Homo sapiens: one gene and its partners. The protein of the gene in region 2 purifies or fractionates together with the protein of the main gene of each other region. This does not show direct contact. Each region holds a gene or a part of one and is shown on either strand. Other genes may lie near its edges. The genes, in order: DACH1, FRAT2, TRPC4AP and RILPL2.

What was found.
Region 1: the proteins of FRAT2 (region 2) and DACH1 purify together in Homo sapiens (affinity purification with mass spectrometry; one large-scale study listed by BioGRID and IntAct). This does not show direct contact.
Region 3: the proteins of FRAT2 (region 2) and TRPC4AP purify together in Homo sapiens (affinity purification with mass spectrometry; one large-scale study listed by BioGRID and IntAct). This does not show direct contact.
Region 4: the proteins of FRAT2 (region 2) and RILPL2 purify together in Homo sapiens (affinity purification with mass spectrometry; one large-scale study listed by BioGRID and IntAct). This does not show direct contact.

Annotation. Positions count from the first base shown.
Region 1 is NC_000013.11:71,558,308-71,564,269, forward strand, and holds part of DACH1 (dachshund homolog 1), read right to left. Parts: intron 1,649-5,962; coding exon 1,513-1,648; intron 1-1,512. UniProt on the Homo sapiens protein: Transcription factor that is involved in regulation of organogenesis. Seems to be a regulator of SIX1, SIX6 and probably SIX5.
Region 2 is NC_000010.11:97,330,660-97,337,133, forward strand, and holds FRAT2 (GSK-3-binding protein FRAT2), read right to left. Parts: upstream 4,071-6,474; 5' UTR 3,914-4,070; coding exon 3,212-3,913; 3' UTR 1,838-3,211; downstream 1-1,837. UniProt on the Homo sapiens protein: Positively regulates the Wnt signaling pathway by stabilizing beta-catenin through the association with GSK-3.
Region 3 is NC_000020.11:35,043,322-35,049,283, forward strand, and holds part of TRPC4AP (short transient receptor potential channel 4-associated protein), read right to left. Parts: intron 1,392-5,962; coding exon 1,184-1,391; intron 1-1,183. UniProt on the Homo sapiens protein: Substrate-recognition component of a DCX (DDB1-CUL4-X-box) E3 ubiquitin-protein ligase complex required for cell cycle control.
Region 4 is NC_000012.12:123,418,373-123,424,334, forward strand, and holds part of RILPL2 (RILP-like protein 2), read right to left. Parts: intron 4,786-5,962; coding exon 4,672-4,785; intron 1-4,671. UniProt on the Homo sapiens protein: Involved in cell shape and neuronal morphogenesis, positively regulating the establishment and maintenance of dendritic spines. Plays a role in cellular protein transport, including protein transport away from primary cilia.

The DNA of each region.
Region 1 (5,962 bases), on a different chromosome or scaffold from region 2:
TACTTTAAAGTAATATGTTACATATATGTACATATATATGTATGTGTGTGGATGTGGATGTATTTCCATTTCAACAATTATGGTATCCCAGGCATACAAAAATGTCTCCTTTGTTTCTATCAAAAATTGAAAAAAGAATATTACCATTACTAAAATAACATGAATGTATAACAAAACTCATTCAAATCTTCCCCCATCTGTCCATCATTTTCATTTTGTTCCAATTTTTTTTTCTCTAGGACAGCACCTTTCCAATGACAATATCTTATAATGAAACCAATATTTATCATTAAATTTCTGATTCTAGTGTCAACATACCATAAAAATATACAGTAAATATTTCATTTGAAAACTGTTTTAAAATTGTATATAAAGTTACAAAATTAAGGAAATACGTTTCCGGCAGGCCAAAGCAAGTATATATATTTAGTATTATGTTGAACTATATAATTGCCAATAATTGACTATCTTTTATTTATAATTATTTACACAGCATTCAACTTAATCTTTAAATTATCCACTTCAATAGCTCCCAGATCAACAATTTTCACTTTATGCATACATTCCTTTATAACCTATAAAGTGACTTTCTAGAAAATGCTTTCCTATTATGAAAATATTCTCGACAACCAAATAACTTAAATAAACTTTGTACAATTAGATGAAGTGTATGCTATAAACATAATTGCATAAAATAATAGCTAAATTCTGGGAATAAGCAATATATATAGGTTTTATCAAACAAGTTATTCTCTTTTAATATAGTCATTTATCAAAAGAACAATCTGAGATTATTGTACAGACACAAAAATCACTTGTTAATTGGATGGCATTTTAACTTTATTCTTAATTTTCTTGGCCATAACTACCAAGATTAAATATTGTGAAAATATTATAAAATAACACACAGCCCTACTTTCCAAATTTTAAAAATAACAATATATGGCAATACTATGCATTATTGATTGTTACTAATTCAAATTCTCAAACTTAGCTAATTTCAAATTATTTAATCCATTGACCACCTGAATGACTTAGAAATGTATGCTTTTTAAGTTTAGTATTTTGAATTTAACTGATTTCTCTTTGTGGATATCTCCATTAACACAAGGATAAAATTTAAAAGTCAGTGAATTACAAAAATGGCAGAGTAGGATTTGAGGAATGATGTTGAATAATCCATAAACAGTGTACCAAGACACTAGATATTTGAGAATTGGCTGTGTTTACTTCAGAAACCAATCTAAACGGTTACTTATTTTCTCTGTTTCATAGCTCAAATCTTTATATGTGGCATCAAAGAGAGGAAATTTATATCAGGACCTGTTAATGTAGTATCATACCTCATGATATTGCAAACTGGGAAACATAATTTTGAGAGATGGCTATTGCTACAGAGTTTCAGAACATGATCCATCTGAGATCTATTTGGAATGAGGGCATGTTGATTAGAAAATCCAGCTGAACCCTAATAAAGTTTAAAATGGTGACAAGTAGAAGTATGAGACCTACGGATTCTGTCAGAAGAGCTCTCAGTCCGAGCAGGGGAGCTGGACACGCTGCTGCTGCGATGTGATGATGGGTGACTGCCAGGCCTTCTCCCCTCCTCCAGAGAGGGGGCAGGTGAGGGGCTATCAGGAACACGCTCCTGCACCAGCAAGAGAGGGAAGGAGGGTAGAAAAGATGTTAAATACAACGGATCTTTACTTAATGAATGTTGTTTTTTCTCAATACAATAAGAAATGTAAAGAGAATAAACACTTTACTTCATCAGCATTTAACTGTACTAAAAGATATGTTTATCTTGAGCAAGCCAAATAAAGTAGAAAAAGATGGTCTATGAAACTATGGTTCTACAGGTAAGCGTGACTGCAGTAATGGCGAATGTCAATCCACTCTGGAGAAAAAGTAAGCCCTAGGAAGACGCCCAAAAATAAACAAATAAGAACCCATTAGACAACAAAGATCTCAGAGAATAAAGAAGGATTATTTATCATTTTGAAGAAATCTTTAAATATATTCCCTTATTTCTGCAAGTATCTAAAGATCATGTAATAAACACATTATCAACATGACTGACCATAATAATAATACCAGAGGAGTTTTTAACAGGTATTCCATCCTAGTACTGCTCTGGACATACTCAGTCACATTTTCAGGCATCATGGAAATGGATTATTATTTAATATTGGAATAATTTTCTTTGGTTTAAATAATTCTCAGAGTACCTACCACACCTAGCTTCAATTCAACCACACAACTGTATTAAGGGCACATTTATGAAATATATATCAATCATGTCCCAGGGAAATTTGGTACTGTGCTTCCTGATACTCTATTTTATGTCAACAGTCTTGTCTCTCTCCACACCTCCCTCTCTAAGCTCTGTACATTCTCCATTAGACAAATCTGCAAGTAGATTCTATAAATGTCTCCAATTAGCTATTATAAATGGAATTACAGATTAAGAAAGAAGGTACCCATTGGTGAACATTTTCTACTTTGAGCAGCAAAATATTTATACCCTCAGTTATTAACAGACACAGGCCTTGATGAACTGTCTTTGTAATAATAAATAGTTAAAAGTGTGGAAGAAAACTATATAAAGTATGTAGATGTATAATGTACTTATAAATAATTAGTACATTATTCCTTATTAGAGAGAAAATATGCAATTACAAAATAGAGAAAAAAAATCTAAAATGTAATTGGCCTGTAGGAGGCTAATGTTTCCAAAATGTCAATGTTAACTTAATACGGAAAACAAATAGGAGGTTCCAGGTTTTGTACTGCCAGTGAGAATGATGATCGTGCTCATCTTTGGTCAAAGTGATTCCATTAGCACCATGATGGTTTGAAATCCTGCTGCACATCAGAATCACCTGGCATGTTCTTAAATGCGCTTATGCTTGAGTTTCACTCCCAGAGATTCTGGTTTACTGAGTATTATGGCTTAATTGTGTTCCCCAAAAAGATCTGTTGAAGCCCTAACCTTTGGTCCCTATCAATATGAATGTACTTGAAAACTGAGTCTTTGCAGACATAATTAGTTAAGATGAGAACATACTGGATTAGGGTGGCTTTTAATCCCACGTGAGTCGTGTCCTTACAAGTAGATGTGAAGATAGGAGGGAAGAATGTCATGTGACCATAGAGGAAGAGATTAAACTTGTGCAGCTTCAAGCCAGGGAATGGCAAGGATTGCCAGCTGCTACCAGAAGCTATAGAAAGCGAAGGATTCTACCTAGTATCTCAAAGGGAGCATGGTCCTCATGAACTCCTGATTTTGAACTTCTAGACTCCAATAATGAGAGACAATAAATTTCTGTGGTTTTAAGGTACCCAGTTTCTGGTTCTTTGTTACAGTGGCCCTAGAAATCTAATACACTAGGTCTAAAATGGGACCCAGACTTCGGTATCTTTTTAAAAGCTCTCCCTATGATTTTAATATGGAACCAAGATTGAGCTGTACTTTTGTCACACTCTTTTAATTTTTCAATGATGTACATTGCCAATAAACATCTTCAACAGATATGCTGAGACTTCATTTTGAAGACCCTGACAAATAAAATGAAAATAACCAGAAAAAATAGCCAAGCCCTTTTCCCAAATCCATGTCATAAAATGGTTTCCTAACATATATTCCATGGAATTAAAAAAAAAAAGCGCTATAAGAAGCTTCATGACAAAACAATATTGTAAAGGAAAAGAAAAAAGAGGTCAATTAAATTTTAATCTCGAAAGTTGCAATGCGTATTACAATCTTGTCGTAATGATAACTTGTTGAACTTTAAGAGTTTTTGTACAGAGCTAATATGTGCTGATAGGCTTCTGTAAAAGACAATAAACTCCCACAGAAGGCAGACGTATTGTTAGTATTATACTAAAAAGCATTAGCCCTTTACCTTAATTGATCGGGGTTAACAATTAAGTGTTTTATTTTATGCAAATAGCAAAACTGATATGTAGGTAAATGTAAGCAACACACAATATATTTTCCATCTCAAGTTATGTGGGGTTTCCACTTAAAATACTGCAAATATGCAAATAAGTGGGAGGGAGAGAGAAAGAGAAAGAGACAGAGAGAAGAGATGGGAAGAGGAGAGAGAAAACAAGGGGGGACAAAGACAAACATACATCCCAGATATTAAAATTTGAAACTAACTTGTTCAGAGACGTTTATAACATGTATGCATTTGTTACACGCTAGGATACTACAGAAAGATGGCATCCAACTTTACAGTTTGCAGATTAAGATATTTTGAAATCTTTATCACAGGTAACATGGAAAACGAATATATTATCAGTTACTTTTCCAAGCTAACAAAATGAAGCATGTATGCTTCTAAAACGTCTAAGGCAAACAAACGACCAACAGTTTTAAAAAACAAACATGTATATGACTTAAAAGAGCAGAAACTTCACATCTGGATGCCAAAACTTACTTCCTGTCTTCTAATTATAATTACCCTAAACTATAAAGAAGTTTCAAATGGCAATATTCTCATATCAAATCATTGTAATCACAAATCAAAAGACAATCTTGGCTTGTGTTAGCCACACCATAATTCAAAAGTTTAGTTGTGTATGGTTTTGGAGTATTTGCGCACTTATCATAGAGGATGCATTTATAAGGCTATATGTAGAACTCCTTTATAATTTGTATAAATATATCAAGAAACAATACTGCAGCTAACTGCATACATGTCCAGAGATATACTCTTAAAGTCTAATCTTGATTTCTTGAAATTCTAATAGAAGCATAGTTTGTCTAAGCTTTAGAGCTAATTCCTAATACATCTAACTGTTAGCACTTGGATTACACAGAAATACATGGTGTGTATTTAAGAAAATGCATTGATATATTTTTGTATAAAGAGAATTTTCTAAATTAACCATTCTATTTTATTCCAAAGTTCACTCACATCAATGCTTATCTATCAATAAATTTTAACATTTTTCTTAATCATTATGTTAATGCATGTTTGGCTGAACAGACATAAAGTACAATCTTGAAATAAATCAGTCTCTCTAAAATGATTTTGCAAGTCTGATTTTCCTGTCATAATAGATTTCTTGGTAGTGCTAATGGAAAGCATGAGAATATAATTTTTCTGAGATATTTAACTCATAAAATGCTTAAATATTTAATGCATAAATCTCTGGAAACAATTATTATGCCATTAAAATAATTCCTTGTTTATTTTAACATTTCCCATATAAGTAGAAAAATGCTTTATTAGTCAATGTACTTAAATGTCAAAGTTGTCTGTGATCATCCCTTTAATTCATGAATTGTTCAGTTACTCATTTACACATCCAAAATACTCTTAAAAAGGCATATTATACTAAGTAAAAATAAATTAGATTGAAATCTTTATGTAAAATGCATTTTAAAAGCATAATAAAGCTCAGTAAATATGTATAAGTAAAATAATAGTATTTAATTTACCTTTAACTTAGTTTTTGCTTTAATTGTAGTTTTGTGTTCAAGAACAAAGGATACAAAAACAACAGTTAATACTGTTATTTGAAGAAAATATTTTAATTTATGCAAGTGTTTATGATTTAAAAGCTTAACTATTCAATTGAAACTTTCTATAAATTGAGACACAACATATTCAGTCATTTTACTTAATGTATAATTTCAATCTTTGGAACCTAATGTATTGTTCTTTGAAGAATTTCATTAAAGTAAAATCCATTGAGCAAGTAAGATTTGAATACATTGTTGCACAATAAATTAATTTATTTCAACAGCTTAATTCTTTTATCATATTTATATGCTTGCCTTTCCAGAGTATTCTATAAGATGGAGAATAATGGAGACAATAAAGAATTGCTTAGGAGGGAATCTCATAATTATTACTGAAACAAAATAGATAATGAGTTTTATTCAGACATAATAAGAAAGAAGCAGTTCAATGTCTATAAGAAAACTATGTAAACTGGATTTATCATT
Region 2 (6,474 bases):
GAAACCTCATCTCTGCTAAAAATACAAAAGTTAGCTGGGAGTGGTGGCGGGCACCTGTAATCCCAGCTACTTGGGAGGCTGAGGCAGGAGAATTGCTTGAACCCAGGAGGTGGAGGCTGCAGTGAGCCAAGATCATGCCACTGCACTCCAGCCTGGGGACAGAGCAAGACCACGTCTTAAAAAAAAAAAAATGCCAGGTGCCGTGGCTCATGCCTGTAATTCCAGCACTTTGGGAGGTCAAGGTAGGCGGATCACAAGGTCAGATCGAGACCATCCTGGCCAACATGGTAAAACCCCGTCTCTACTAAATATACAAAAATTAGCTGGGTGTGGTGGCATGCTCCTGTAGTCCCAGTTACTCGGGAGGCTGAGGCAGGAGAATCACTTGAACCCAGGAGAGGGAGGCTGCAGTGAGCTGAGATCACACCACTGCACTCTAGCCAGGCGACAGAGCGAGATTCCATCTCAAAAAAAAAAAAATCTTGTAAAAGGTGCCAACCAGGGTGCCTGCCCTAACAGGGATCAGCTCCATCTCTACCTAGGAAGTAGAGAAACACTCAGATCTTGTAGGTCTTTTCCCATTGTCTGTAGTCCTTATCTATAAGATGGAAAAATAGTGCCTACCTCGTGGCACATAAAGCCATGTGGTAGTACCAAGAATGAGCAGCTATCACTTTTTGAGCAATGAAGTCTCCCCTTCAAGTCCTCATTTAACCCTTCCAACTCCCCTATTAAGTACTATTGTTTTACAAATCACAAGGGAAAAACTCAGAGTCTTGACTTGCCCACCATGACACAGCTGGTGAGCAGAAAGGGCTGAGGCAACTGAGCATCAGCCTTCCTCTGCAGCCCCAGCCTCGGGAGTGTGCTGAGCAGGAGAGGTTCCCCGGGGGCTGGGTTAGTAGAGCTGGGCAAGGAAGGGGCAAGGCAGGGGCCAGGTGTGGTGGCTCACGCCTTTAATCCCAGCACCTTGGGAGGCCGAGGAGGGCAGATCACTTGAGCTCGAGTTCAAGACCAGCCTGGGCAACACAGTGAGAACCCATCTCTACTAAAAATATAAAAAATTAGCCTGGCATGGTGGTATGAGCCTGTAGTCCCAGCTACTCAGGAGGTTGAGGTGAGAGGACTGTTTGAGCCCAGGAGGTTGAGGCTGCAGTGAGCCAAGATCGTGCCACTGCACTCCAACCTGGGTTACAGAGTAAGACACCATCTCAAAATAATAAAATTAAATTAAAAAGAGAAAAGGGCAAGGCAGGAACTAGGAAGGGATTCAGCAAGGGCTCTATGCCTGGGAAGACAGGGCAGAGAGAGAATGAGGAGAGGAGGAGGGCTACTTCGGTCAAATCTAACCCCTGAGTGCTCAAACCAAGCCATTTTACAACTACCAAATACACTGCTGTAAAACCCTGTTTTTCTCTCCCAAGGCCATAGCTCAAGACTAGGTCAGTCTCAAAGGGGAAAGCAGGCTGGCTTCGCCTGTGCCCTCCCCATTTTGCACAAAAACGTCCAGATGAAAACCCACCTCCCTCCACCACAGCACCTCTTTGCTCTCCAGCCCAGAAAGCATTTCTAGAATACATTGTCTTTCCACAAAGGGAGTGGAAGCCCATCTTGCAGCTTCTAAAAACCTGGACTCAATTTTCTGATCTTGTGGAATAAAAACTTAGAAGCACTCAAGTCCTGTGGCTCTACTAGGATTCTGTGCCCATCAGCATTGGCCCAAACCATTTGTCCAGGTCCCCCCCCCCCGGTTTAGCCCAAGTGCCCTCTTTATTAAGGACATCCCCATATGCTTTTCTGCCCCTCTCCCACCTTCCACCAAAATGCCAAACCGTGCTCCAAAACAAAAGCCAAATTTATTCAGCAGACATTTTAATTATGAAATCCTATAAATCAGGACCACCACAATTTCAGACACTCCGTTGCGAAGTGTACATCAATAGCTACATCTGGAGGATGAACAAGCCATTGAATCTTTTAAAAATTGGTTTAGCTACCTTAAAGTTTGGGGGTGGCACCTTACAAAAGCGCCGTCAAGTTTCATACAGCCAGCGGCTTCTTCTCTGGGAGAGTCACATTTTAAAACCGGTTTCAGACACAAAAGAAGGGCTGGCACGGGAGGAGGAAATAAATTGTGAGGGTGAGGAGCCGCCGAGGCCGAGGCCCATGACTCCATGGAGGGCCAGAAGAGAGCAGAAAAACGTCCAGGGTCTCTCATGCATTCCTATAGACACCAGAAAGGGTGGAATAAGAAAGCTCAGCTGGGAGGACAAGAAAGAGACTCAAGAGATCGTTTATGACTGTTTCTGAGAAAGCTCCTGGCATGGCCATGAGTGGCCTTCCGGGAGTCCTGTAAAAAGGAAAGCACAGAAAACAGGAAAGAACTCTCCCTACACGTCCCTCTCTGCCTGTTTGTGTCCTCGGGAGACTCCAAGCGGTGGTAAAGCACCAACAGGGCTCTTCTTGGAGCAAGAGAAAGAAAAGACTCCGGGGTGAGTAAGCTCTCCCAGGAACCCCACAGCAAACCGTGACCTTGAACACAGATGGCAAGGTCAAGTCATTTACAAGTCCACATTCAAATCCAAATCTCCCACCTGCAAAATTCTTCACCTCTCTCCAGTCCCTTAATTGGAGTTCACATCTCCCACCTTCACCAGCCACCGAATCGGTGGGAAAAAGGGGCAATGCCAAGCCACCCACCACCAAACTTTTACATTCTTCTCCCCTCTGGAATTTCTTTGCACAGCAATTGTAGCACCACTTACTAAGCTCCTCCACCAGAAAATAAGAAAATGTATGCGTGTCGTTAGTTTTCAAGTATTGTTATAAAGCCATCGCGATTCCTACCCCTGAGCCCTCCTTAAACAATCCAAGCTCACGACGCCCCCAAGGGCTAAGTGAGGTACAAGTCGATGCAAGTAGCTGCCATAGTTCTCCCAGTTTATCCCAGGTCCTTGGGCTTGGATGGCCCGGGAAATTCTCATGCCCCACGGAAGCACCCTGGCGCATACATTTCTCCACGCTTAAGTTTTCTCCGACGGCCTCGCCGCGGCTGGTAACTTCTCTGGTTGAGATCTCTCCCCACGCGCCTCCCCGCAGCCAAAGTGGTCGCTCCCAGGCTGGCGACGTCGGCTTCAGCTCAGAGTTAGTAGGAACTGGACGCTGTTGGGTCTACGCAGCGGCCTCCACTTCCTCCTCCAGGAGGCCTGCGTCAGAGCAAGGAGCCTGAGGGCTGCAGGGCAATGCGGTCAGGTCCGCTGCGGCCTCCCCCGGGCCCAGGGGCGCTTGCGGGGCCCGTGGCTGCAACCGCGGCGACGGCTCGTTGGAGTCTCCGCACGGCTTCCTTGATGAGGTTTCCCGAGAGCACGAGCTGCTGGAGGAGCCGATGCGGGTCGTCGTCGCCGGCGCGTGCCCCGGCTTGGGTCCATCGGCGCTGCTGCAAGCGGCGGGAGGTGACCGCGTCCCTGAGCCATCCTCGCCGGCACGGCCCCGGCAGCGCGCTGGGGCCTGCGGCGACCTCCGCCACGCAGTAGGGCGCAGCGCGTCCGCGCACGCGGCCGCGGTCCCCTAGGGCGCAGCGCAGGGCCCCAGAGGGCGCCGGGCCCACCGTCTCAGCCGAAGCGGGCGGCAGCAGCAGCGGCACCGCCGGGGGCCGGGCCTTGTCCGCCGGCACCGCCGCAGCCAGGGGCCCCGGGGCCCGCAGCGGCACCCCCGGGGGCGCGCACGGCGAGGCCGGGCTGTCCTGCGCCGCGTCCAGCTGCAGCGTCTCGCCGATCTGGGCCACCAGCCGGTCCACCTCGCCCGAGCTGCCCAGCGTCACCGACTGCTGCAGCAGGAGGAAGCTGTCGTCCTCCTCTTCCTCCCCCTCCGCCTCCTCGCCGGCTTCCTCTTCCTCCTCCCTCCGGCACGGCATGGCCCCCCGTCCTGGCACCCGGAGCTGTGCGGGCTTCGCTGGGGGCTTGGTTGCCCGCGGGCGCGGAGCTGCGGGCGAAGCCGGAGCAGGGGCGGACGCGGAAGCCGGAGCCCGCCAGGCACTCGAGCCACGCGCCTGCAGCCGCTGGAGCCGGAATCCTGCCGGCTCGGGTTGATTTGTAAACAATGGGTGACGTCGCGCCGGGCCCTACCACCGCACCGGGGCGGGGGTGACGCGCGAGCAGGCACGGGGGCAAAGGGCGGCGCGGGCGGTGACCGAAGCCGTCCCGCGCCTGTGTTCGTTGTCCCTCCAGGAGGGGGTCCGGGGCGTGGGGACTGATTTCCGACCTCCCGGGCCCAACGAGCCGTGCTGAAACGTGGCGCCTCGGAGGAGGCTGAGGTTGGTTTCTCCCACGCACGGACACACCCACACCCACTCCGGGCCCGCCTCCTGGGCCGCGGCCTCCCTCCCCACGTGTCGGCCGCGCCTAAGCCCGCCCGACTCCCGCCCCGCGCACCCGCAGTTCCCGGCCCTGGTCGTGGGGGAGGGGCGGGCCGCCGCGGGTCCGGCTTCGACGAGGCGGGGCGGGGAAAGGCGGAGGGAATTGGGAGTGAAGAGGCGGCACGTTACTTATTTACTTATTTATTATTTAGAAAAGGTCTCTGTCGCCCAGGCTGAAGTATAGTGGCGCGAACACGGCTGACTGCAGCCTCGAACTCTGGCTTAAGTAATCATCCCACTTTAAGCCTCCGGAGCAGCTGGGACCACAGGCGCGGCCACCACGCCTGGCTAATTAAAAAAATTTTTTTTGTAGAGACGGTGGTGGGGGGGGGGGGTCTCACTATATTGCCCAGGCTGGTCTCGAACTCTTGGGCTCAAGGAGTCCTCGCTCCTCGGCCTCCGAAAGTGTTGGGGTTACTGGCGTCAGCCGCCGCGCCCGGCCTAAGAGGGGACGCTTTGAAGCAGAGCAGAATCGCTCTGAGGTGAGGTCCCAGAGGCTTTCCCTCCCGCAGTCTTCAAGCCCCCGGACATATCATGAGAATAGGACTCACCGCCGCTCGGCTAAAGAAGGGTCTTTTTTTTTTTTTAAGGTTCAAATAGAAATATAGGGGATTGGCCAGGAGCGGTGGGTGGCTCATGCCTGTGATCCCAACACTTTGGGAGGCCGAGGCGGGCGGATCACCTGAGGTCAGGAGTTCCAGACCAGTCTGGCCAACATGGTGAAACCCCATCTCTGCTAAAAATACAAAAATTAGCCGGGCGTGGTGGCGGGCGCCTGTAATCCCAGCTACTCGGGAGACTGAGGCAGGAGAATGGTTTGAACCCTGGAGGCGGAGGTTGCAGTGAGCCGAGATCACGCCACTGCACTCCAGCCTGGGCAACAAAGCGAGACTCCGTCTCAAAAAAAAAAAGAAAAATATAAGGGATGGAAAAAATCTCTCATGGTTCACATTTAAATTTTTTTCCTTTTTAGCCTTTGTTCTATGAAAGTGTAGTATACAAACACATGCATACAGTGTTACACACTTTTCCACTTTGCCTTACATCATAAACGTTTTTCGTGTTATTGCATGCACTTTGAAAACATTTTAATGATTACATAAGTTTCCATCAAGTGCCTATGTTTTTAACATTTGCCTAATTTCACCATCGTTAAGTGTGTAACTAACATTTTTGTGCGCGACACTTTAAGATATTGATGATTCTTTCCTTAGGGCATATTCCCAGGAGTGGAATTTTAAGTCACAGTAGTTGGGTATTTTAAGGTTTACTGATAAATGTTCAGGAAGTGTCTTTCCAAGAGTTAGGTAAATGTACTCTACCATCATTAATGCTTGAGCATACATCATTACACCTTCACTAGTATTTGAGTATTATTGAATTTTTTTTTTTTTGCGGATTATATAGGGAAATTTTCTCCCTTCAGTTTGCATATCTTTGATTTCAGTTAGGTAGAGCAGTTTTCTAAATGTTTGTTAACAAACTGTACTTCCTTTCTTATGAATTGTCTATTTCCTAATAAGATTTTCCTAGGGAGTGTTTCTTACGTATTTGCATGACTCCTTTACATACCAAATGTTAACCCTTTTCATATTTTGCCGCAAATACGTCTCCAGGCTTTTGTTGGCTCTGTACAGTCATTTTTTCCCCCACTAAAACCAAATTTTCATGTAGGCAAATTTTAAAATCTCTTTGAAATTTCTAACACGATGCTAAATTTGGAGTCTCCTTGCTGCCAGAAAGTTATTAAATATTCCATTCTATTTTCTTTAGATTTTTCAAATGCCTTGATTTTTTTTTCAAATCCATCTGGGATTAATGTTGGTCTTTGTTTCAAGGAGATGACATGAAATTAATTTTTTCCTGGAGAGCTTGCCAGCCAAAGGTGTGTTTCTTCACTAGGACAGAGGTGTGAGGGTAGCATAAACACAAGCTGTCTGGTGAGTTTCCAGTTGCTGGTTAAGCTGGTGGTTGTGAGGAGTGGGTGGGGCTGGGAATGTTTTGATCAGTCTGTTGTGTGAAGTCAAAAGAACCCAGAACAGGTTGTACAAAGACCTAGA
Region 3 (5,962 bases), on a different chromosome or scaffold from region 2:
CAGCAACCTCTGCCTCCTGGGTTCAAGCAATTATCCTGCCTCAGCCTTCTGAGTAACTGGGACTACAGGCGTGCACCACCACACCCAGCTAATTTTTGTATTTTTAGTAGAGATGGGGTTTCGCCATGTTGGCCAGGCTGGTCTCAAACTCTGAACCTCAAGTGATCCTCCTGCCTCGGCCTCCCAAAGTGCTGGGATTACAGGCGTTAAGCCACCGTGCCTGGCCTCAGTGAATAATCTTGTACAGTAGTCCTCCCTTAGTCAAGACCCTCACAGTGGATACCTGAAATGGCAGATAGCACCAAACCCTATATATACTATGTTTTTTCTTATATACACACATAACTATGATAAAGCTTAATTTATAAATTAGGTACACTAAGAGATTAACAATAACTAATGATAAAATAGAACAATTGTAACAAGATGCTGTAATAAGAGTTATACGAATGTGGTCTCTCTCTGGAATTTTTCAGTTAATATTTTCGGATTGCAGTTGACCACGGATAACTGAAACCACAGAAAGTGAAACTGCAGACAAGAGGAGATTAGTGTCTATACATCATTATCTATAAAATGAAGGCCCAGGAGAGACTTAGTAGATCAAAAAGTATATGCATTTGTAATTCTGATAAAAAGTAGTTCTTAACTTTTTTTGTGGTTCTGAGCCCATTAACAAATCTAATGAAAGGTATGGAACTCAGTTCCCAAAATAATGAACAGATACACAAAATTTACATACTAGGAGCCTTCACATGGATCCATCTCTAGAGATATTTAAAAGGGGTGCTAGGTGTGGTGGCTCACACCTGTAATTCTAGCACTTCGGGAAGATGAGGTGGGTGGATCACTTGAGACCAGGAAGTCAAGACCAGCCTGGGCAACATGGCGAAACCCCATCTCTACAAAAAATACAAAAATTAGCCCGGTGTGGTGGCACCTGCCTATAGTTCCAGCTACTCAGGTGGCTGAGGTGGGAGGATCACCTGAGCCTGGGGAGGTCAAGGCTGCAGTGAGCCACGATTGTGCCACTGCACTCCTGCCTGGGTGACATAGTGACGATCCCATCTCAAAAAAGGAAAAAAAAAAAAAAAGAAAAGAAAAGAAAAAGAAAAAAAACTAGATGATTTAGTAAGGGCCTCAGAGCTATAATCTCAAAATTCTGAGAACTTGGAGACTTTACCTTGATTGATTTCAGCTGCAGAAGGCCCCAAACTCAAGCTCTTCTTCTGTTGAGCATTTTTGGCAAGAAGCGTGTGCTTGTCATCATTCCCTGTATCCATCTCTGAAATGGTGACAGCCAGAATCCGGCAGAAATTAGCGAGCTGCTGCTGATCGAAATTGGATACTAAGGAACTCAGATTGGGGACTTCATCTAGTCGGATCATTTCCTACAGAAGACAAAAATGAAACAATCCCCATGCTCAATTCACTCAAGAGATTGGATGTGCCTCTCTTTCGCATCCCCTTACATACGGGGCTTAGTGGCTAGATCACTTAGGTTCCTATCCCAGCTCTGTAACTTGCAGCTCTGAAACTTTGGTTAAGTTACAAAAACCTTTCGAGTCTTTGCTTGTTTATCTGTAAAACGGAACTAATCTACCTCACAGGATTAGTCTGAGGACTAAATTTACCTTTTGAGCACCACTGTTTTCAATTGTTCTTGTGGTATATTTTGCCTATTTAAAAAAAAAGGAAATGCCTACCACTCAAGTTTTGGAAATCATAAATTACCATTCTTGCTACAGATTTGCTTTTTTAAAAAATAAAATACTTCAAATATAGCTAAAGGCCTCTGTGTATCCCCCATCCAGTCGCATTTTTTTCTCTCCCTGCAGACGTAAACATTATTTTGAACTCTGTGTTTATTATTCCCGTGCATGTTTTTATACTTACAAATATTTCCATTAAAATACATGTTACTGCTCTGCATGCACAGTGTGAATGATACCATACTATACCTTACTTTTCATCCAACATTTTGAAGTTTATCTACACTGATACAAGCAGCTGATTCAATCACTTCCCGCCGTTTTACCCCACAGTTTAATCATCTCTCTCTTTTAAGAGACAGGGTCTCACTCTGTTGCTCAAGCTGCGGAGCAGTAGTGTCATCATAGCTTACTGCAGACTCAAACTCCTAGGCCCAAGCAATCCTCCTACCTCAGCTTCCCAAGTAGCTAGGACTACAGGTGCGTGTCATTACACCTGGCTACTTTTTTAATATTTTTTTTTTTGAGATGGTATCTCATTGTCGCCCAGGCTGGAGTGCAGTGGCGCAATCTTGACTCACTGCAAACTCCACCTCCTGGGTTCAAGTGATTCTCCTGCCTCAGCCTCCCAAGTAGTGGGGATTACAGGCGCCCGCCACCACGCCTGGCTAATTTTTGTATTTTTTAGTAGAGATGGGGTTTCACCATGTTGGCCAGGCTGGTCTTGAACTCCTGACCTCAGATGATCCATCCACCTTGGCCTCCCAAAGTGCTGGGATTACAAGCGTGAGCTACCACGCCTGGCCAATACTTTATTTTTATGGAGACAGGGTCTCACTATTGTTGCCCAGGCTGGAACTCCTGGACTCAAGCAATCCTCCCACCTTGGCCTCCTAAACTGCTGGGATTACATGTATGAGCCACTGTGCCTGACCCTTTCTTCTTTTAATACATATTTAGGTAAACTACAGTTTTTCACTATTAAACAATGTTGCAATGAACATTCTTACAGGTACTCTCTGTGTACACATGTATGTGACCATTTATCCAGAGTGAGAGCAAGAATTCTTGTCTTTTTCTTGACTTTACCAGAAATAATTCCAAAACATTAAAATTAAGTTCAATATTTGCTGTAAATTTTAATATCCTATAAGTTAAATTTTAATAAATACCCTATATATAGTTTATAAGTTTTCCTTCTATTGCTAGCTTTTATTAAGAATGATAATTTTATGGAATGCCTTGTGCTATTTGGTTCTATTCTCACTCATTACTCCTTAAAATCTGTAAATGGCATGTACTACATCAACTTTTCTCATTTTGAACCATCCCCGTGCTACTCAGATAACACCTGCTATCCTTCATCCCACTAATTTACTTCCACTGGATTGGGTGTTTCTCTTTCACTGCACAGATCACATGAACTTTTAATAATCTGTTCCTGCATCTATTTCCCAAATAATCTGACCATACTTTGATGAAGGCATATATCCTACCCTTTCTCCTGAGACTCAATGCACAGGACCTGGTAGCAAGGGTATCAGTGAATGTGCCCAAAACGAGTGCATGATTCCTAGAAGCTCTCATGAATCCCATACTCGCCTCTATTTCTAGTAATGGAGGACAGGAATTTGCTGTGCAGGGGGCATTGGGGAACAACTGCTTCCACTTTTCCTTTTCCCTAGTACAAAACAAATGTAAGCTACTACTATTATTGGCAACTGTAACTTGTAGCTCACCAGTTCCTCTAGCCCTGTCTAACTCAGTATATGGTTCCCAAAACAGGTCCCACCACCCCCAGCCCACTTCTTATGGTTTTTTGTTTTGTCTTAAATTTTAAGATTTTTTTTTTTAAGGCGGAGTCTCACTGTGATGCCCAGGCCAGAGCGCAATGGCACAATCTCTGCTCACTGCAACCTCTGCCTCCTGGGTTCAAGCAATTTTTCTGTCCCAGCCTCCCAAGTAGCTGGGACTACAGGCATGCACCACCATGCTGGGCTAATTTTTATATTTTTAGTAGAGACAGGGTTTCACCCTGTTGGCCAGGCTGGTCTCCTGACCTCAAGTGATCTGCCCACCTCGGCCTCACAAAGTGCTGGGATTACAGGCATGAGAGCCACTGTGGCTGGCCAAGAATTTACTTCTTATGTTTTAATTTTTGATATGTACAATACGTATTATGCAGCACAACAAAATGACTAGCTGTGTGTGCCTTTCCTATTGCATCTCTCTGCCTCTGGGAACCACCATCATTAATTATTATTGCCTTGCCATTTAAAAACTAGTTTTATCAACAAATAATTTGCTTTTTTGAGCTTTATGAAAATGATATACTACCTACAGTGTTCTGCAACTGGCTTCTACCACTCGATTATTTCAATTACTCAGCTATGTTGTTGCCTATGGCAACAGTTCATTCATTTCTACTATATAATATTCCATTGTGTGAAGAAAGTACATTCATCCCTTCTCCTATTCATGGATCAGAGACTTGGTTTCAGTTTTTTGTTCTGAAACAACGAAGCTACAAATGTTCTTATGTGTTTCTTGATGCACAGGTGGAGAAGTTTTTGCTGGGGCAGTGGCTTCTAAACTTTTTAGCTATCACCAAGAACGACCACCAGTAAACATACATATTGGAATGTATATAGAAATGTCAAACAAAAACTTATTCAAAAAATACCCTTACACAATACAGTTTGATCTTTTCTACTTGGCTGGTAGACCCGATGGACTGACTTTACAACCTTCTGGGTTTCAATCCTAAGAATCACTGTTCTAGGACTGAGCTTCCCCACAAGTGTGTCCAGGCACAGGTTATAGGTAACCCATGGCAAAATACTGATGCCTCAGCCCTCAGGGTAAAGCTTCCCTAGGTGCTGGGGCACAAGATATGTGCCTGTTCAACTACAAAACAAAAAAAAAGAGGATATTCTGCTGATAAACATTTATCAGTAGTATACAAGTGTTTCCACTGATACACACACTCACCAACATTTGCCCACTCTCTCCCTCACTATGGTATTGATTTGCATTTCCTTGATTGCCAATCAAGTTAAACATCTTCTCTTTTATGTTTATGGACCATTTCTTTCTTGTCTGTGAAATGCTTGTTCATAACATTGCCCATTTGTCTACTGGGCTATTTCTCTTTTTCATGCTGATTTGTAAGAATTCTGTTTTTTTTTTTTTTTTTGAGAGGGAGTCTTGCTCTGTTGCCCAGGCTGGAGTGCAGTGACATAATCTTGGCTCACTGCAACCTCTGCCTCCCGGGTTCAAGCAATTCTCATGCCTTAGCCTCCCAAGTAGCTGGGACTACAGGTGTGCACCACCATGCCTGGCTAATTTTTGTATTTTTTAGTACAAAATGAGACTGGGTTTTGCCATGATGGCCAGGCTGTTCTCAAACTCCTGACCTCAAGAGATCTGCCTGCCTCAGCCTCCCAAAGTGTTGGAATTACAGGCATGAGCCACCGTGCCTGGCCTGTAAGAATTATTGATAAATTCTGAATACAACAAATCCTTTGTTGGTTACCTGAATTCAAATGTCTTTTCCCAGTTTATGGTGTTTCCACTTTCTTTATGGTATCTATCCCCCTTTCAAACTGCACCAAGATACCCATAATGTTTGGTGGAACACCTCGCCATTTTGGGGTACACAAAAAGGAATGAGAGGGAGTGAGAGGCAAGTGGGAAAAGTTGTGAAGGAGCACTTCTAGACTCCTATGCTGAGACTGCTAAGGAGTCTGGAGTTTCCACTCTGGAGGTCCCCTTTCACACACTGGCTGGAACACACAATTACTGGAATAACAACAAAGCCTTTTTATCAAAGGGCACAAAGGGTCTGTCTGGGGCCTGCACACATCTCCAATGTGTTCCTACAGACAATAGGCCACTTGTGCTGGGCAATGACAAGCAAGGCCTGGGGAAAGCACAGCAAGAAGAAATGAACGCTGGGTTCACCACAGTGCACATGAACATCCACCTCCCTGCAACAGCAACCTCTAGGAGGCTGCTCAACAGGAAGAGAAAGAAATCTGCCAACCAGCAACCAACATGGAGGCTCAGGACAGATTAGGACTGGGGAGGTGAGCTCCAGGTCCTAACAAGCATTACACCAAAAATGTAACACAGTAAGTCTCTAACAGAGATCTATGAATGTATTTTTGGGTATCTGTGAATTCTTGAAATTTTTAATTTAGTTTTCATTTCGATCATAGCTGTTTTTTTTTTTTTTTAAAGTTATGGGT
Region 4 (5,962 bases), on a different chromosome or scaffold from region 2:
AATCTAAAGTAGTCCTCTCTCTCCCGTTCTGTCCCCTTATTTGTGATCATAGCACATATAGCTATCTGAAATTGTCCTGTTAATATATTTCTTTACCTGTTCACTCTCTGACTCCCTCTACTAGAATGTAAGGTCCACGAGCCAGAGACTTTAGGTTCTGTTCACTGCTGTATCTTCAGCACCTACAACAGTGCCTGGCACATGGCAGACCCTCAGTAAATATTTGTTGAATGAATGGAGTACAGGAAAGCTGCAGCCTACTGTCCTGACACCTGGCAACTAAGAGGGCACATATCAGTGTGGTCCAAGGAACTTTTGAAAAAAATCCAGATTTCTGAGCTTCATCCAAGAACCACTGACTTGATTTCTTTTTCTTTTTCTTTCTTTTTTTTTTTTTTTTTTTTTTTGAGACAGAGTCTTGCTCTGTTGCTAGGCTGGAGTGCAGTGGCGCAATCTCAGCTCACTACAACCTCTGCCTCCCGGGTTCAAGCAATTCTCTTGCCTCAGCCTCTTGAGTAGCTGGGACTACAGGCTTGGGGTTTCACCATGTTGGCCAGGATGGTCTCAATCTTCTGACCTTGTGATCTGCCCGCCTCAGCCTCCAAAAGTGCTGAGATTATAGGTGTGACCCACTGCGCCCGGCTTTTTTTTTTTTTGAGACGGAGTCTCGCTCTGTCACTCAGGCTGGAGTGCAGTGGCACGATCTCGGCTCACTGCAAGCTCTGCCTGCTGGGTTCACGCCATTCTCCTGCCTCAGCCTCCCGAGTAGCTGGGAATACAGGCGCCCACTACCATGCCCGGCTAATTTTTTGTATTTTTAGTGGAGATGGGGTTTCACCATGTTAGCCAGGATGGTCAGCCAGGATGGTCTCCATATCCTGACCTTGTGATCTGCCCGCCTCGGCCTCCCAAAGTGCTGGGATTACAGGTGTGAGCTACTGCGCCCGGCCTACTGACTTGATTTCTGAGAATCTGAATTTTACACAAGCACCTCACTCTTAGTATAAGAGGCAGCATCCGAAGAACTATGGGATCAACCCTGGTGCACAGACATGAGGGAAGTATTCAGAGGAAAGTGCATAGCATGTTCCAATGCTGGGACACGGCTCATTCAAGAGGAATGGTCCCACGTGGGACAGGGAGAGGTCCTTGGGCATTTCCCACAGCCAGGCTGAAACTGCCTGTTGCTCCAGTTCTATTCTGGTTATCAAGAGGATATTGACTCCCTTTTTTCTTTTTTTTTTTTTTTTTGAGATGGAGTCTTGCTCTATTGCCCAGGCTGGAGTGCAGGGGTGTGATCTCAGCTCACTGCAATATCCTCCTCCCAGGTTCAAGTGATTATTCTACTTCAGCCTCCCGAGTAGCTGAAATTACAGAGGCCATGGCTAATTTTGTATTTTTATTTATTTAATTTTTATTTTTATCTATTTATTTTTTTTCAGACACAGTCTCATTCTGTCGCCCAGGCTGGAGTGCAGTGGTGCGATCTTGGCTCACTGCAACCTCTGCCTCCCAGGTTAAAGCGATTCTCCTGCCTCAGCCTCCCAGGTTAAAGCGATTCTCCTGCCTCAGCCTCCCAAGTAGCTGGGACTATAGGTACACGCCACCACACCCAGCTAATTTTTGTATTTTTAGTAGAGACGGGGTTTCTTTTTTTTTTTTTTTTTTTTGAGACAGAGTCTTGCTCTGTTGCCCAGGCTGGAGTGCAGTGGTGTGATCTTGGCTCACTGCAACATCCGCCTCCTGGGTTCATGCCATTCTCCTGCCTCAGCCTCCTGAGTAGCTGGGATTAAAGGAGCCTGCCACCATGCCTGGCTAATTTTTTTGTATTTTTAGTAGAGACGTGGTTTCACCATGTTAGCCAGGATGGTCTCGATCTCCTGACCTCGTGATCCTCCCGCCTCGGCCTCCCAAAGTGCTGGGATTACAGGCCTGAGCCACTGCGCCTGGCAGAGACGGGGTTTCACCATGTTGGCCAGGATGATCTTGATCTCTTGGCTTGGTGATCCGCCCACCTCGGCCTCCCAAAGTCTTGGGATTACAGGCGTAAGCCACTGTGCCCGGCCTATTTTTATTTTTTTTGAGACAGAGTCTCGTTTTGTTGCCCAGGCTGGAGTGCAGTGGTGCAATCTCAGTTCACTGCAACCTCTGCCTCCTGGGCTCAGGCGATTCTCCTGCCTCAGCCTCCCGAGTAGCTGGGATTACAGGCACCCGCCACCATGCCCGGCTAATTTTTGTATTTTTAGTAGAGACGGGGCTTCACCATGTTGGCTAGGCTGGTCTCGAACTCCTGACCTCAGGTGATCCTCCCACCTCAGCCTCCCGAAGTGCTGGGTTTACAGGCGTCAGCCACTGCGCCCGGTCGAGTTTGACTCTTGATTCCATTTCCTGAGCATCACCATGTGCAGCAGGAAACATTCTGGAAAGGTGTTTTCCCTGCCGTAGATTCCATGTAGCCCAAGATTAGGGGCGAATGCACTTAGGAGGTAAATAGATGCGGCTTCAGGTCTGAGTTCCACCACCACTGACCCGCTGTGTAACCTTTGCAGGTCATTGATCCTCTCTGACTCTCAGTTTGCCCGTCTGTAAAACAGATCTCCTGAGTAGATGTTTACTCAGCTCAGTGTCTGGCACATAGCAAATGCTCACTAAGTGGGAGCTATGTTAAATCTTTTTTTTTTTTTTTTTGAGACAGGGTCTCACTCTGTTGCTCAGACTGGAGTGCAGTGGCACCATCTCGGCTCACCTCAACCTCCGCCTCCCAAGCTCAAGTGATTCTCCTGCTTCAGCTTCCTGAGTAGCTGAGATTAAGGCGAACGCCACTACCACCCAGCTCATTTTTGTATTTTTTAATAGAGTCAGGGTTTCACCATGTTGGCCAGGCTGGTCTCGAACTCATGACCTCAAATGATCCACCCACCTCGGAAGTACTGGGATTACAGGTGTAAGCCACTGCATCTGGCTTAGCTATGGCGAATCTTAAGGTATGGGGAATTATCTTTCCCTTTCCCCAGTCCTACTTCATCTCATCAAATTAAACCCAACAGCCTCTGAGTAATATTGGGAAGAAAACTGCTATTTCCCTGCCCACCATACTGAGCTCACATGAACCACTGCCCCCAGAGGAAGAACCATGACTTTGCTCTCTGGAAGCTACATGCCTGACTGCCTCTTCCTTTGGTTTTTTCCTGCTGGGCCAGAGGTATTCTCCCCTGTGCTCCTGCCCCTTGCCCTCTGCCCCTGCTCCCTTCCAAGCTCCTCAAGGTCCTGTCCCTGAGAAAGAAGGCCTGGGTTATTCCTTTTTTTTTTTTTTTTTTTTGAGTCTCGCTCTGTTGCCCAGGCTAGAGTGCAGTGGCACAATCTCGGCTCACTGCAACCTCCACCTCCCGGGCTCAAGCGATTCTCCTGCCTCAGCCTCCCGAATAGGTGGGATTACAGGCATCTGCCATCACGCCCGGCTAATTTTTGGATTTTTAGTAGAGACGAGGTTTTGCCATGTTGGCCAGGCTGGTCTCGAACTCCTGACCTCAGGTGATCTGCCCGCCTCAGCCTCCCAAAGTGCTGGGATTACAGGAGTAAGCCACCGTGCCTGGTCATCGCTATTATCATTTTTGTTTTCTTTCTTTCTCTCTCTTTTTTTTTTTTTTTGAGATAGGGTCACGCTCTGTTACCCAGGCTGGAGTGCAGTAGCGTGATAATAGTGATAATAGTTTACTGCAGCCTTGAACTCCTGGGCTTAAGTAATCCTCCAGTCTCATCCTCCTGAGTAGCTGGGACCACAGGTGCAGGCCACCACGCCCAGCTAATTTCACTTGATCTCAGCTAAAAGGCCGACAAATGATACCAGCTAATTAAAAAAAAAAAAATTGGCCAGGCGCAGTGGCTCATGCCTGTAATCCCAGCACTTTGGGAGGCTGAGGCAGGTTGGTCACGAGGAGTTCAAGACCAGCCTGTCCAACATGGTGAAACCCCATCTCTACCAAAAATACAAAAATTAGCCAGGCATGGTGGCGCATGCCTGTAATCCCAGCTACTCAGTAGGCTGAGGCAGGAGAACTGCTTGAACCTGGGAGGCAGAGGTTGCAGTGATCCGAGATTGCACCACTGCACTCCAGCCTAGGCGACAGAGTGAGACTTTGTCTCAAAACAAAAAACAAAACGATGTTTTTTCATTGACATGGGGTCTCACTTTGTTGCCCAGGCTAGTCTCAAACTCCTGGCTTCAAATGAATCTCTTGCCTCAGCCTCCTGTAATCACTGTTGAGATTACAGGTGTGAGCCATTGCACCCAGCCTGGTCAAACATCACAGGGAGGCAGTGGAGTGTAGAAGCCAGACTTCCTTGGGTTCCTGACTTCACTATTTACCCTCTGTGAGACCTTGGGCAAGTTACCTTACCTCTCAGTAGCTATTTCTCCATCTGTAAAATAGTATCTACCTTGCAGGGTCACTGTGATGATTCGATGAATTAATATATGCCAAGTGCCTAGGCTACTGCCTGGCAGATATCATTATAATACACTGGCATTGAGTTTTCCCATGGGCTGCAGCACCACAACCGGGAGAGTAGAGGCCCTCCCTGCCCTGGGCAGCTGGTCAGCCTCTTCTTGCCCCCGACTACTTCCTTGAGTTATTATTTGGCGGGACCGGGGGGCAGCAAGGTGACACTTACAGCTTTTTTATGATTGTCTTCTCCTCCTTGTTCCTGCCAGCATTTTTGGCACTAGTAACCACAGCATCTTTTTCTCTTCTTCCTCCTGGGCCTTCTCTTGGTGGAATCAGGCCACTGGGAAACGGGACAAAAAATAAATGGATTATTTTATTACAGATCGTTTTTTTTTTTTTTTTGAGTTGGAGTCTTTCTCTGTTGCCCAGGCTAGAGTGCAGTGGCGCCATCTCAGCTCACTGCAACCTCCGCCTCCCGGGTTCAAGTGATTCTCCTGCCTCTGCCTCCTGAATAGCTAGGACTACAGGCGCCTGCCACCATGCTCGGCTAATTTTTGTATTTTTAGTAGAGATGGGCTTCACCGTGTTGCCCAGGCTGGTCTCAAACTCTTGACCTCAAGTGATCCATCTGCCTCAGACTCCCAAAGTGCTGGGATTACAGGCATGAACCACTGAGCCTGGCTTTTATTACAGACCTCTTATCTGTGCAGCTCTGAAAATAAAGGGTCTTAATGATGATGATGATGATTATGGTAATATTACGGTTGAAAGCACTAGAGTCAGAGAAATTCTGTTTAAAATTAGAATCTTCCCTGTACCTTTCCAATGTGATGCCTCGTTTCTTTTTTTTTTTTGAGACGGATTCTCGCTCTGTTGCCCAGGCTGGAGTGCAGTGGCGCGATCTCGGCTCACTGCAAGCTCCGCCTCCCAGGTTCCCGCCATTCTCTTGCCTCAGCCCCCCGAGTAGCTGGGACTATAGGCGCCCGCCACCACACCCGGCTCATTTTTTGTATTTTTAGTAGAGACAGGGTTTCACTGTGTTAGCCAGGATGGTCTCAATCTCCTGACCCAGTGATCTGCCCGCCTCAGCCTCCCAAAGTGCTGGGATTACAGGTGTGAGCCACCGTGCCTGACCCTCTTGTTTCTTTCTCTTACCTAATTGCATTGGCTACTGCTTCAAGCTTCTCAGTTTTCTAGGAATATGATTGTGTATAAATTCTCTAACTTAAGCCTTGGTTTCCTAACCTATAAAATGAGTCTAATAATAGTACCTACCTCAAAGGATTGAGAGATTATCTAAGATGATACATAGTGCTTAACATTCAACAAATATTTATTAAGCTACCTACTGTGGTTAATAAATATTTTGTCTCTGAACTGTTTTGTCTCTGAACAAAATAGACAAAATATATTCTCTCACGTAATTTATATTCCAGTAGGAGAAGGAAACAGTCAATAAAGAAATAAGTAAAATAAAAGTATAAATTGTAAGTCAGATGTTGATAAGAGTTAGATTT